Homo sapiens: one gene and its partners. The protein of the gene in region 2 purifies or fractionates together with the protein of the main gene of each other region. This does not show direct contact. Each region holds a gene or a part of one and is shown on either strand. Other genes may lie near its edges.

Region 1 (3,651 bases), on a different chromosome or scaffold from region 2:
CAAATGAAAACAATTTGGATGCTCCAAAGGTCTAAACCTGTTATGCTCAACTGTTAAATGACTTACTCCTTGACAGTTCTACTCACAGCTTTTGTTTGTCAGCTGCAGAAATTTGACAATGAGCTGAGAGCAGGGCAATAATGGGAGGGGACAAGGGATACGCAAAACCACTGCCACATCCGTCCCATACCTAACCTGACCTGACTTGGAGATACTGAGAGAGAATATGGCCAGTATCTAAAAAGAGGTATCTGTAAGTAAATCACTCAGAGTGAAGAGAGAGAAGTCCATGATAAGGCATAGCAGCTGGTGTTGTATGGCCGAGCCCTGGATATGGAGGCATTCTTTTTTGTTAAGCATGCTGCCCCTTCCTACCTCTATCTCCTGCTTGCTCACATTCTAAAGCCATTGTACGACCTTAGCCCACTGGTGAAAAAAAAAAGGTCATTAGATGTTAGAACAAAAAGGAGCCTAAGATATTTTCTTTTTTTGAGACAGAGTCTTGCTCTGTCGCCCAGGCTGGAGTGCAGTGGTGCAACCTCCGCTCATTGCCACCTCTGTGTCCTAGGTTCAAGCAATTTCTTGTGCCTCAGCCTCCCTAGTAGCTGGGATTACAGGCACACGCCACCATGCCAGACTAATTTTTTTTTGTATTTTTAGTAGACATGGAGTTTCAACATGTTGGCAAGGCTGGTCTTGAACCCCTAACTCAAGTGATCTGCCCGCCTTGGCCTCCCAAAGTGCTGGGATTTTAGGCATAAGCCACCATGCCCAGCTTGATATTTTCTTTTCCTTTAAAAAATTTTTTTGTAAATGTTTTTATGGTTTTTATTTTTTATTTTTTTGAGATAGGGTCTCCCTCTGTCACCCAGGCTGGAGTGCAATGGCTCAATCACAGCTCACTGTAGCCTCAACCTCCCAGGCTCAAGCAATCCTCCCACCTCAGCCTCCAAAGTAGCTGGCCCATGCCCGGTGTTTTTGTATTTTTTTGTAGAGACAAGGTTTCACCATGTTGCCCAGGCTGATCTTGAACTCACACCTGAAGTGATTCTCCAGCCTTGGCCTCCGAAAGTGCTAGGATGACAGGCATGAGCCACCACACCTGGCTGCCTTAAGGTATTTTCCTTCTTTTCTTTTTTTTTTTGAGAAGGAGTTTTGCTCTTGTTGCCCAGGGCTGGAGTACAATGGTACGATCTCGGCTCACCACAAACTCCGTCTCCCAGGTTCAAGCAATTCTCGTGCCTCAACCTCCCGAGTAGCTGGGATTACAGTCATATGCCACCACACCTGGCTAATTTTGTATTTTTAGTAGAGATGGGATTTCTCCACATTGGTCAGGCTGGTCTTGAACTCCCGACCTCAGGTGATCCGCCCGCCTCAGCCTCCCAAAGTGCTGGGATTACAGGCGTGAGCCACTGCACCTGGCTAACCTTAAGGTATTTTCTATCTGCTCGTGGTATTTTAAGTAGAAGAAATAGTAAGAAATAAATACTAATTGGTTGTTAAAATTATATATGTTGGATCAATAAATTCAAACATGAAGTCATATCCAGGAAATATATTAATGAGGCAAATGTATTATCTACTCAAAACCACAAAGGTAAACAAGAGAAAAAGGTTGATTAAAAAGAAAGCTGAGCTTGGGGGCAGATGCCTGTAGTCCCAGCTACTTGGGAGGCTGAGGTTGGAGGATCACACGAGGTCACAAGTTCAAGGCCAGCCTGAGCAACATAGCAAGACACTGTCTCTAAAATTAAAAAAAAAAAAACCCAAAATTTTTTAAAAAGGAAAAATTAATAAATTTAACTACAGAAAAAATTTAAAACTTCAATATGGGCAAAAAGTGTACTATAAGGAAAACCAAAAGGTAAATGACAAATCTGGAAAACACAAGTGGTTTGTATTACAGACAAAAGGCTATTCTCCATATTATATAAAGTTCCTCGAAACCAGTAAGAAAAGGACCAATAACTTTAGAAAATGTGCAAAACAGCTTGTCCCAGTGGCTCATCCCTGTAATCCCAGTGCCTCATGAGGACAAGGCAGGAGGATCATTTGAGGCCAAGAATTCAAGACCACCTATCCAACATAGCGAGATTCTCATCTCCATAAAAAATTTAAAAATTAGTCAGGCTTTGTGGCATGCGCCTGAAGTCCGAGCTACTCAGGAAGCTTAGGTGGGAGGATTGCTGGAGCCCAGAAGTTCAAGGTTGCAGTGGGCTATGACTGTACAAACTGCACTCCAGCCTGGGTGACAGAACAAGATCCTGTCTGTTTAAAAAAAAAAAAAAAATGTGCAAAAGGATATGAACAGAGAGTTAACAATTTCAATAAATGATATGAAATTTGCAAAAAAAAATCTTCTCACAGAGGACTCTGCTATCTGATAAGAGTGTGCTAGGGCTGAGTACTCAGGTGTTTAACCACTAATGGCTAATATTAATATAAAGGACTTGCCGGGCGCAGTGGCTCATGCCTGTAATACCAACACTTTGGGAGGGTGAGGTGGGTGGATCACCTGAGGTCAGGGGTTCAAGACCAGCCTGGCCAACATGGTGAAACCCCATCTCTACTAAAAATACCAAAAAATTAGCCAGACACTGCACCTGTAGTCCCAGCTACTTGGGAGGCTGAGGCTGGAGAATTGCTTGAACCCAGGAGGCAGAGATTGCAGTGAGCCGAGATTGCACCACTGCATTCCAGCCTGGGTGACAGAGCAAGACTCTGTCTCAAAAAAAAAAAAAAAAAAAAAAAAAAAAAAAAAAATATATATATATATATATATATATATATATATATATATATATACACACACACATATGAAGGACTTTAGGCAAGGCGTGGTGGCTTACACCTGGTAATCCCAGCATTTTGGGAGGCTGAGGTGGGTGGATCACTTGAAGTCACGAGTTCGAGACCAGACCCTGGCTAACGTGGCGAAACCTTGTCTCTACTAAAAATACAAAAAATTAGCTGGGAGTGGTGGTGCACGCCTGTAACCCCAGCTACTTGGGAGGCTGAGGCAGGAGAATTGCTTGAACCTGGGAGGCAGAGGTTACAGTAAGCCGAGATTGTGCCACTGTATTCCAGCCTGAGAGATGAAGTGAGACTCCATTTCAAAAAGAAAAAACAAAATTTAAAAAAAAAAAAAAAAGGGACTTTAAAGATCTGAACACTGTGATGCTATCATCAATAATTATCAAGAAGATGGTCTCATAAATATAATGGTGCCACCTCTTCTTGCCTCTTACCTGATTTAGCATGACATCATAGACATCATTTCCTTCACAATACACATGAGCCTAGAAAGGGAGAGAGAGAAAAAATCAACATTAGTATAGGTTCAGCCCTGACATCCTAAATGAGGCTCTAAATTTTCTTATGGCTCAAGTCATCATTCTACAGCAACATCAACATTCATCTCCCAAGGAAAGAATTGCAAACCTATGTTCTACCAGTAACCTGGGTGTAACCTTACTATAAATGAAAACATGCTTCCTTTTTTTTAACTATACAAAAGATTCTGAGTTAGGCTGCGCATGGTGGCTCATGCCTGCAATCCCAGCATTTCGGGAGGCTAAGGTGGGCAGATCACTTGAGGTCAGGCATTCGAGACCAGCTTGGCCAACATGGTGAAGCCCCGTCTCTACT
Region 2 (3,651 bases):
TGCTGGGTTCAAAACAAAAGAAATTAACAGCAAGCGCGGGGTGGATGTTCAAAAAAACCACAAACCTGATTTCATGGAAACACACCTTTCCCGAGAGCAGTGATTCTCAGCTCGGGAGATGCAGGGAGAGCCCCCAATTAGCCAACGGTTTCATTTTCTCCTCGTGGGTTAAAATGATTAGTTTATGTTTAATGTTGTGTCGAGGCATTATTTACCTGCACTGAGTGGGGAGTGTGTGACCTGAATGTGCAGCTGCTGCCTGAGTACCCACGGGAGGAGGAAGGCGCCGCTCTTACCTGCATGAGCTCAACGTTTCCAAAGAACCGGCTCACGGGCATTGGCTGATTGCTGTCGTCATCTAGAAAGACGCTGTTGTCCATCTGAAGTGGTGGCTTCTGCACATCCTCTGTCTGTAGCCCTGGCTCATTCTGCTTCTGCACAGTGGAGCTGCTGTTGGATTCTTCTGCTCCGGACCCGGCACTGTGTTTTGGCACGGACAGGCCATCTCTAGTCTTTGCTAAGCGAGAGTCACTCACAACTCTGCAGCCACCGAGAGGAAGACTTGCAGCCCCCTGCTGCACAGAAACGCCAGCCTCGCTGCCTGGAAGCAAGGCACTGCCTTCAGCAAACTCATTTTCACAAGGGGTCTCAGGTGTCACTTTTGGCAAAGAAGCGCTGTCATTCTTAGGGACAAGCTTCTGTAATTCTGACTTCACAAGATGTCCTTTGTCACATTTGAACTTCTTGGACGTTCGCGTGTCTGTGGCTTTGTGGGATGAGGAAGTCTGTCAAGAAAAAAAATGTAAGGGGAACCAGACATATCTAGCAAATAAAACAGGCCTCAATCCAGAGGCTAGTATTTCTTCTCACATCGGAAATGATAAAGATGCTGTGACCACAACTTTCACAGATCGTCATTTCACTGTTTTGCCACCAAGGGACAAAATACAAGCGAGACTGAATCTAGACACACCCCACACCACTCCTACACTTTCAGTTTTCCCTAGTGGCGTTACAGCTCCACACCACTCCTACACTTTCAGTTTCCCCTAGTGGCGTTACAGCTCCTCAGGTGAATTCTGAAGCATATATTTATATATTATACAATTACAGTAAAAGAATCCAGCTTTCATTCATTTCTGCTAGGGCATAAGCTCTGTGAAGGCAGGGGTCTTTGCTTTATTCACCAATTAGTGCCTGGCACACAGTAGGTGCTCAAGAAATATTTGTGAAATTGACTTCGACAAAATTTTACCAAGCACCTCATCATGAGCAAAGCTCTGTGCTACACGCTGGCATATGGCCAAGTCCTAACCCCTCAACTGTAGGCTCCGTGAAGCGGCTCTACTTCACCGGTAAGTTCAGGAACTCGCTCCTCGGAATCGATGGCTGGGCTAGGGTGAACGGCAGACGGCATGAGATTCCTTTCCCCACCCACTCTGCCTTTCTCTTCAAGCCTCTGGCGGTGAGGCTGCACGGCAATGGGCCAGCATGACTCCATAGCACGCTAAGAGCAGAGCGATGAGCACAAGTGGCCTCAGAGCCTGGTTTAGACACACACACGGGTGGGCAGGTGCTAGGATCAGAGCCCGGGTCTAGACACACACACGGGTGGGAGGGTGCTAGGATCAGGGCCCGGGTCTAGACACACACACGGGTGGGCGGGTGCTAGGATCAGAGCCCGGGTCTAGACACACACACGGGTGGGCGGGTGCTAGGATCAGGGCCCGGGTCTAGACACACACACGGGTGGGCGGGTGCTAGGATCAGGGCCCGGGTCTAGACACACACACGGGTGGGCGGGTGCTAGGATCAGGGCCCGGGTCTAGACACACACACGGGTGGGCGGGTGCTAGGATCAGGGCCCGGGTCTAGACACACACACGGGTGGGCGGGTGCTAGGATCAGGGCCCGGGTCTAGACACACACACGGGTGGGCGGGTGCTAGGATCAGGGCCCGGGTCTAGACACACACACGGGTGGGCGGGTGCTAGGATCAGGGCCCGGGTCTAGACACACACACGGGTGGGCGGGTGCTAGGATCAGGGCCCGGGTCTAGACACACACACGGGTGGGCGGGTGCTAGGATCAGGGCCCGGGTCTAGACACACACACGGGTGGGCGGGTGCTAGGATCAGGGCCCGGGTCTAGACACACACACGGGTGGGCGGGTGCTAGGATCAGGGCCCGGGTCTAGACACACACACGGGTGGGAGGGTGCTAGGATCAGGGCCCGGGTCTAGACACACACACGGGTGGGAGGGTGCTAGGATCAGGGCCCGGGTCTAGACACACACACGGGTGGGCGGGTGCTAGGATCAGGGCCCGGGTCTAGACACACACACGGGTGGGCGGGTGCTAGGATCAGAGCCCGGGTCTAGACACACACACGGGTGGGCGGGTGCTAGGAGAGCCAGCCCTGGCCTGCAGAGTGTGTCTTTCTCTGAAGGCAATTACAGTGCTGTCACCTTTTCATCTGCAATAGTCCCCCTCTGGCAGATAAGTAACAGTCGATATTTTTCTAAAGCAACACATCTTGGAGTGGCAATTTTGTATAAAAATGGACCCTCGAGTCAGGATCTTGGCGTTCTCCACGGTAACAGGGCTCACCAGACATGCTGTCTTGGCAGACGTGGAACCAGCAACTTCCTGGGCAGAGGCCAACCTGGCTGCCGAACAACTTCGTGCTTTCAAGCGCGCTGAAGACCGCACTGCACCTGTGAGCTAGAGAGATTGAGAGCCACTCAGAGAGTGCTCTCAGGAAGGCAGCATGAACATGTAGACGAGAATTTCCCACCTAAAGAACACCCGAAGACCGCCCCTCCCACTCCCAGGATTTTATCATCTTTGTGGAGACAGCTGTGGCCCGAATGTGTAAATCCAAATGAAACTGTGCCTGGATTTAGGATACAGGATCTACTATTTCCACGATTTTGGAGGCTTGGGACGATCTGTCCCCCTTATCTTGTATATTTCTAGTAGCCACCATTTGTCCTTTAGTGGAAATTAAGTCAACTTCAAAGTGTTTAGAATAAGCAGCACATGCCCTTCCTTAGAAGGCTCTCCAACTTTCATACGTTGTCAAAGTTTTTAAAAAAAGGTAACATGAGGAAACCAAAGTTTCTCTTCCTCAAATTAGACTCCTATTCTATTAGCTGAATGCAGCTAGCGACTGTCTCACAAATTTTAATATTAACAAACTGGTCCACCTCTCTTTTATCCTGAATGCAAAGCAAACTCCTCTAATAACAAGAAAGAAATTAATTAAAGACATAACATTTAAAATAACTATTTAGGAATAATTTTCGGCATTCAGAAAGTTGCAAAAAATAGTACAAAGAAACTGGTGTGATAGCTCACACCTGTAATCCCAGCTACTTGGGAAGCTGAGGTAGGAGGATCGCTCGAGCCCAGGAGTTCAAGACCAGCCTGGGCAATACAGCGAAAGCCCATCTTTAAAAAATTTTTTTAAAAATTAGCCAGGTGTGGTGGTGTGCACCTGTAGTCCCAGCTATGTGGGAGGCTGAGGTGAGAGGATCACTTGATCCCAGGAGTCTGAGGCTGTAGTGAGCTATGACTGCACCACTGCACTCCACCTGGGTGACAGAGTGAGACAGTGTCTCTGAAAAAATAATAATAATAAAATAGTAC
Region 3 (3,651 bases), about 110 Mb from region 2:
AAATCAAATAAAACTAAGCTGGAACATTATATTCTCAACTAAAACAGCCAATTCAACGAATACTGACTTAGTGACTCTTTTCTATACTTAAGAATACCTGTTTCCACAATTTATTACATCAAAAAAGAATAGGATGATGAGAACATAGTACAGTACACCCTCACTGGAACTGATCTACGCCCAGTTCCACAAATTGCAGTGCAGTGTAAGCAGGCATTTTGCCACATACCTGTGTTGTGGCTGTGATGGACAGAACAAAGGTGGGAACTGTGGAGCAGCTCAAATTGAGTAGACGACCCTGGAAAGGTAAGAGAGAGCCCTGGGATGAGCTCTGTCTCAGATTCCAATGGCATACAAGTCAAGCCAAAGCGGGAGAGGACTTTACACCCCTCTAGACTCAGTTGGAAGAGGAAGAATTACAGTTCCAGATCAGGACTCTAGGCTTTTTCCTATTTTCTGCAAATCCATCTGAGTCTGAAAGGTTAAAGAATCAGCTGTGGTTAGGAAATAGTGTTACTTAGTAAAAAGTAGATTTTTTTAAAGTGGTTTTATTTTGGGGACCAATTTGTGAAATATCTCTCTCTCCAAAGATAAAATTCAGGGAAACATAGGCCTAATATTTGTTTCCCTCCCCTCCCCCCTCATAGATCTAACTACTCTGCTTGTGCTGCTCTGCCAGGGTCCTTCTCTGTGTGTACCTCTGCCAGGAGGACAACTCGTTTGCCATCTGGCCAGATGACATGGTCCACCTGAGAACGTACTCGCTCCCACGTCAGCTCCGGAGTGCGGAGGCTGGTCTGAAAGGAAGAAAGCACAGTTGACTATGGTTATTAATGAAAGGTAGTAGAGAAATGCCTAGCAACAAATGAGAGAAGCCTTACCACATCGATTTCTGTGTTGGAGTGGCCCATATTGCATACGATACAACTGTTTTTCATGCGATCCAAGTGCTCCCGTGTCACTACATTCTTATTTCCTAAAAGAAAAGATGGGTGGTTAAGGAAAGAGATGCCGGGCAACAAAGGTACTGGCTGGCTTTCAGGTAGAACATAGGAGACCAGAGGCTTGCTGGCATTAAAGAACATGTAGACATTCTGAGAGAAGACATGCATAACCGCTCCTTAGGCTATCTGGTCTTCAGATCAAGCAGTATAAAAAGTCACCAGGGAAAAAAGTTTTTTACTCTGGAAAACATGTTAAGGTTCTGATAGCTTATTCTAGTTCTGAGACCTTTATACTGAACAGAGGTCTCACCTCCTTTGTATGAAAGTCACTCAGACTACTTTCAAGATTTAGCCTCTGAATAAACACTTCTCTATGCAAGTTATTTACCTGTGCAAGTTATTACGACATCGACTTGCCGGATGACTTCATTTAGCTTTACCACCCTGAACCCATCCATGCTGGAAGAAAAGAAAGGAACACTATGAGTAAAGCAAGAAGGCAGTGGGAGGGAAGATGGTCATGAAATGAGACAAGATCCCCTTCTAGTTGGATCCAGTGCCACCTCACAGGAATGGTGAGTGATAAGCTCTGCTAAACTATATACACTGGCCTCTTCAGAGTCCCCAAGACTCCCTCTAGGAAGGAAAAATGCCAAGAGGCTCTCAGAGAGCCCTAGGGTTAGAGTGAGAAGAACAGAGCAGTCCTAGCCTTCTCTTCCCCTAGGTGATTTCTGCAAAAATGATTAATATACTCAATTATGAACTCTCAATAACATAAAGCACCTAGAGTGAATCTAATAGTATTATCACTCTGTTCTTACCAGGCCTGCAGAGCACAGATGGGGTCGATTTCGGTAATGTAGACAATTGCTCCAAGAGCTTTGAGAGCAGCACAGCAGCCCTTGCCTACCTGCAGAACAAAAGAAAGGTCAAGTCGTTAGGTTCATTAAGTCATGGATATTTAGGGTAGGTAGGTTATTTGTGAGACAGGAATTAACCTTCATGAAATAGCCTGTCATCTGGTGAGCAGCTGCACAGACGCTCCAATCCCAAGCAGAACAGAAACAGACCCAGATTACGTTGTGAACCTCAGTTAGAGAGGTAATTTAGCAGACATGTCATAGGAAGGACTGGGGCTTTGCATAGCAGTTTTCATCAGGGAAACAAGACTAAGCAAAAGCAACTTACTCTAAGCAACCTCTAATTTCCTATTCTCTTACTTGAGAAGAATCTACTCAAGGATACCCTCGTAGCTCAGGAACTTCTTTGGGTCATTGCTGAAGACAACAAAATATGTGACCTATTCCAGTTTGGAGATATTCAACTATATGCCATTTCAGATTCCACCCTTAATTCTACTGCAAGTCACTTGTGGGGCTAAAATGCTATATATTCACTTGAATTAAGTCTCATTAAAGGTTATTGTTATAATTGGGGAAGATGATACTAGTATCTATTCCACAAGGCAAAATGGTAAAATCTGAAAACTCAATTCATTTTGTATGTTTCTATTCATAAATCTGAATAAAAGGCTTTTGCTATTGTTTGAGATACATTATCTAAAAAAATTTAAACCTTGTATCAGTGACTCTAGATTGACAGCACAAGCCTCCTTTACCCAATATTTCTAATAAGTACACAAAAAGAAAGAGACACTGAGACCCAGCTATTTACCTCACCATAGCCACACACCACCACTTGTTTCCCACCAAACATCACATCTGTGGTCCTCTTCAGGCTGTGGAAACAGACAAGGGCTCAACTCAAACGTTAATAGCTCAAACTCAGTCCCTCTTCACAAAGTTAAAAGTGTGGGCCAATGCCCATGAGAATATCAATTGGAAGCTGGTTGAGCTCAGTATGAAATGGTCCCTCTAATAAACTTTTAAAGCCAAAGGAAGACCAGAGCCCCTAGAAGTTTGAATATATATACATTCAACCTACCCATCCAAAATGGATTCTCGGCAGCAGTACAAGTTATCAAACTTCTGTTTGGTAACAGAATCATTGACGTTCATGGCCGGAACACAGAGCTTCCCAGCTTTGGAGAGCTGATACAGCCTAAAGAGAGAAGAGGTCACAAAAACAAACAAAAACCAAGTTAGCTGGCACAACATAATTTGTGGCAAAATCTGCCTAATTCTCTTCAAGTTCCATGCTGCCCTTCCCAGTCTCATTTATTGCCCAAGGATATTAGAAAACATGATTATTTCCTTGTCATCCCTCCACACTTCTTTTCATTTTCTTCTCCCTTTACCCCTTTTTTGGAAGAAAAAAAAAAGCCTTTCAATTGAAGAAATGTACTTCTCTTCCCTTTATAGGGAGTGTTATTTCCTTTGATCAGCATTTTTCAATAGAAACCCATGCCTACTTCTGATAAACAAAGACTATCAATGATTCTGATATGGTTCCGTGTGTGTGTGAGTAAGCATGCGCAATGTGCCCCCAAGAAACACTCTTTCAGATATCTTTTCAGTATTCCAACAAGCCAAGAATATTTTGCCCAGTTTTACTTTTTGTAGTGTGTATAACATGTAGTTTTACAATAGGATTGTTTTTCATATTTCAAATATAAAATGATAATACAATATTGAATACAGTTTTTCAAGATACATTTATTCCCTACCCGCCCCTCAACACTAGTTGAGAATCACTCAATGGAGTAAATGGGAGAGAAAAATGTATGAACTAGAACCTGAAATAACTT

Evidence for each region.
Region 1: the proteins of C1orf174 (region 2) and PARP2 purify together in Homo sapiens (co-immunoprecipitation; 2 studies listed by BioGRID and IntAct, with this or other methods). This does not show direct contact.
Region 3: the proteins of C1orf174 (region 2) and AHCYL1 purify together in Homo sapiens (co-immunoprecipitation; 2 studies listed by BioGRID and IntAct, with this or other methods). This does not show direct contact.

What each region holds. Positions count from the first base shown.
Region 1 is NC_000014.9:20,346,514-20,350,164, reverse strand, and holds part of PARP2 (poly [ADP-ribose] polymerase 2), read right to left. Parts: intron 3,303-3,651; coding exon 3,252-3,302; intron 1-3,251. UniProt on the Homo sapiens protein: Poly-ADP-ribosyltransferase that mediates poly-ADP-ribosylation of proteins and plays a key role in DNA repair.
Region 2 is NC_000001.11:3,890,273-3,893,923, forward strand, and holds part of C1orf174 (UPF0688 protein C1orf174), read right to left. Parts: intron 2,725-3,651; coding exon 2,611-2,724; exon of another isoform or gene 2,477-2,610; coding exon of another isoform or gene 2,469-2,476; intron 1,508-2,468; coding exon of another isoform or gene 1,354-1,507; intron 786-1,353; coding exon 297-785; intron 1-296.
Region 3 is NC_000001.11:110,015,698-110,019,348, reverse strand, and holds part of AHCYL1 (S-adenosylhomocysteine hydrolase-like protein 1), read right to left. Parts: intron 3,006-3,651; coding exon 2,889-3,005; intron 2,683-2,888; coding exon 2,619-2,682; intron 1,855-2,618; coding exon 1,766-1,854; intron 1,404-1,765; coding exon 1,333-1,403; intron 977-1,332; coding exon 882-976; intron 798-881; coding exon 699-797; intron 475-698; coding exon of another isoform or gene 430-474; exon of another isoform or gene 299-429; coding exon 230-298; intron 1-229. UniProt on the Homo sapiens protein: Multifaceted cellular regulator which coordinates several essential cellular functions including regulation of epithelial HCO3(-) and fluid secretion, mRNA processing and DNA replication.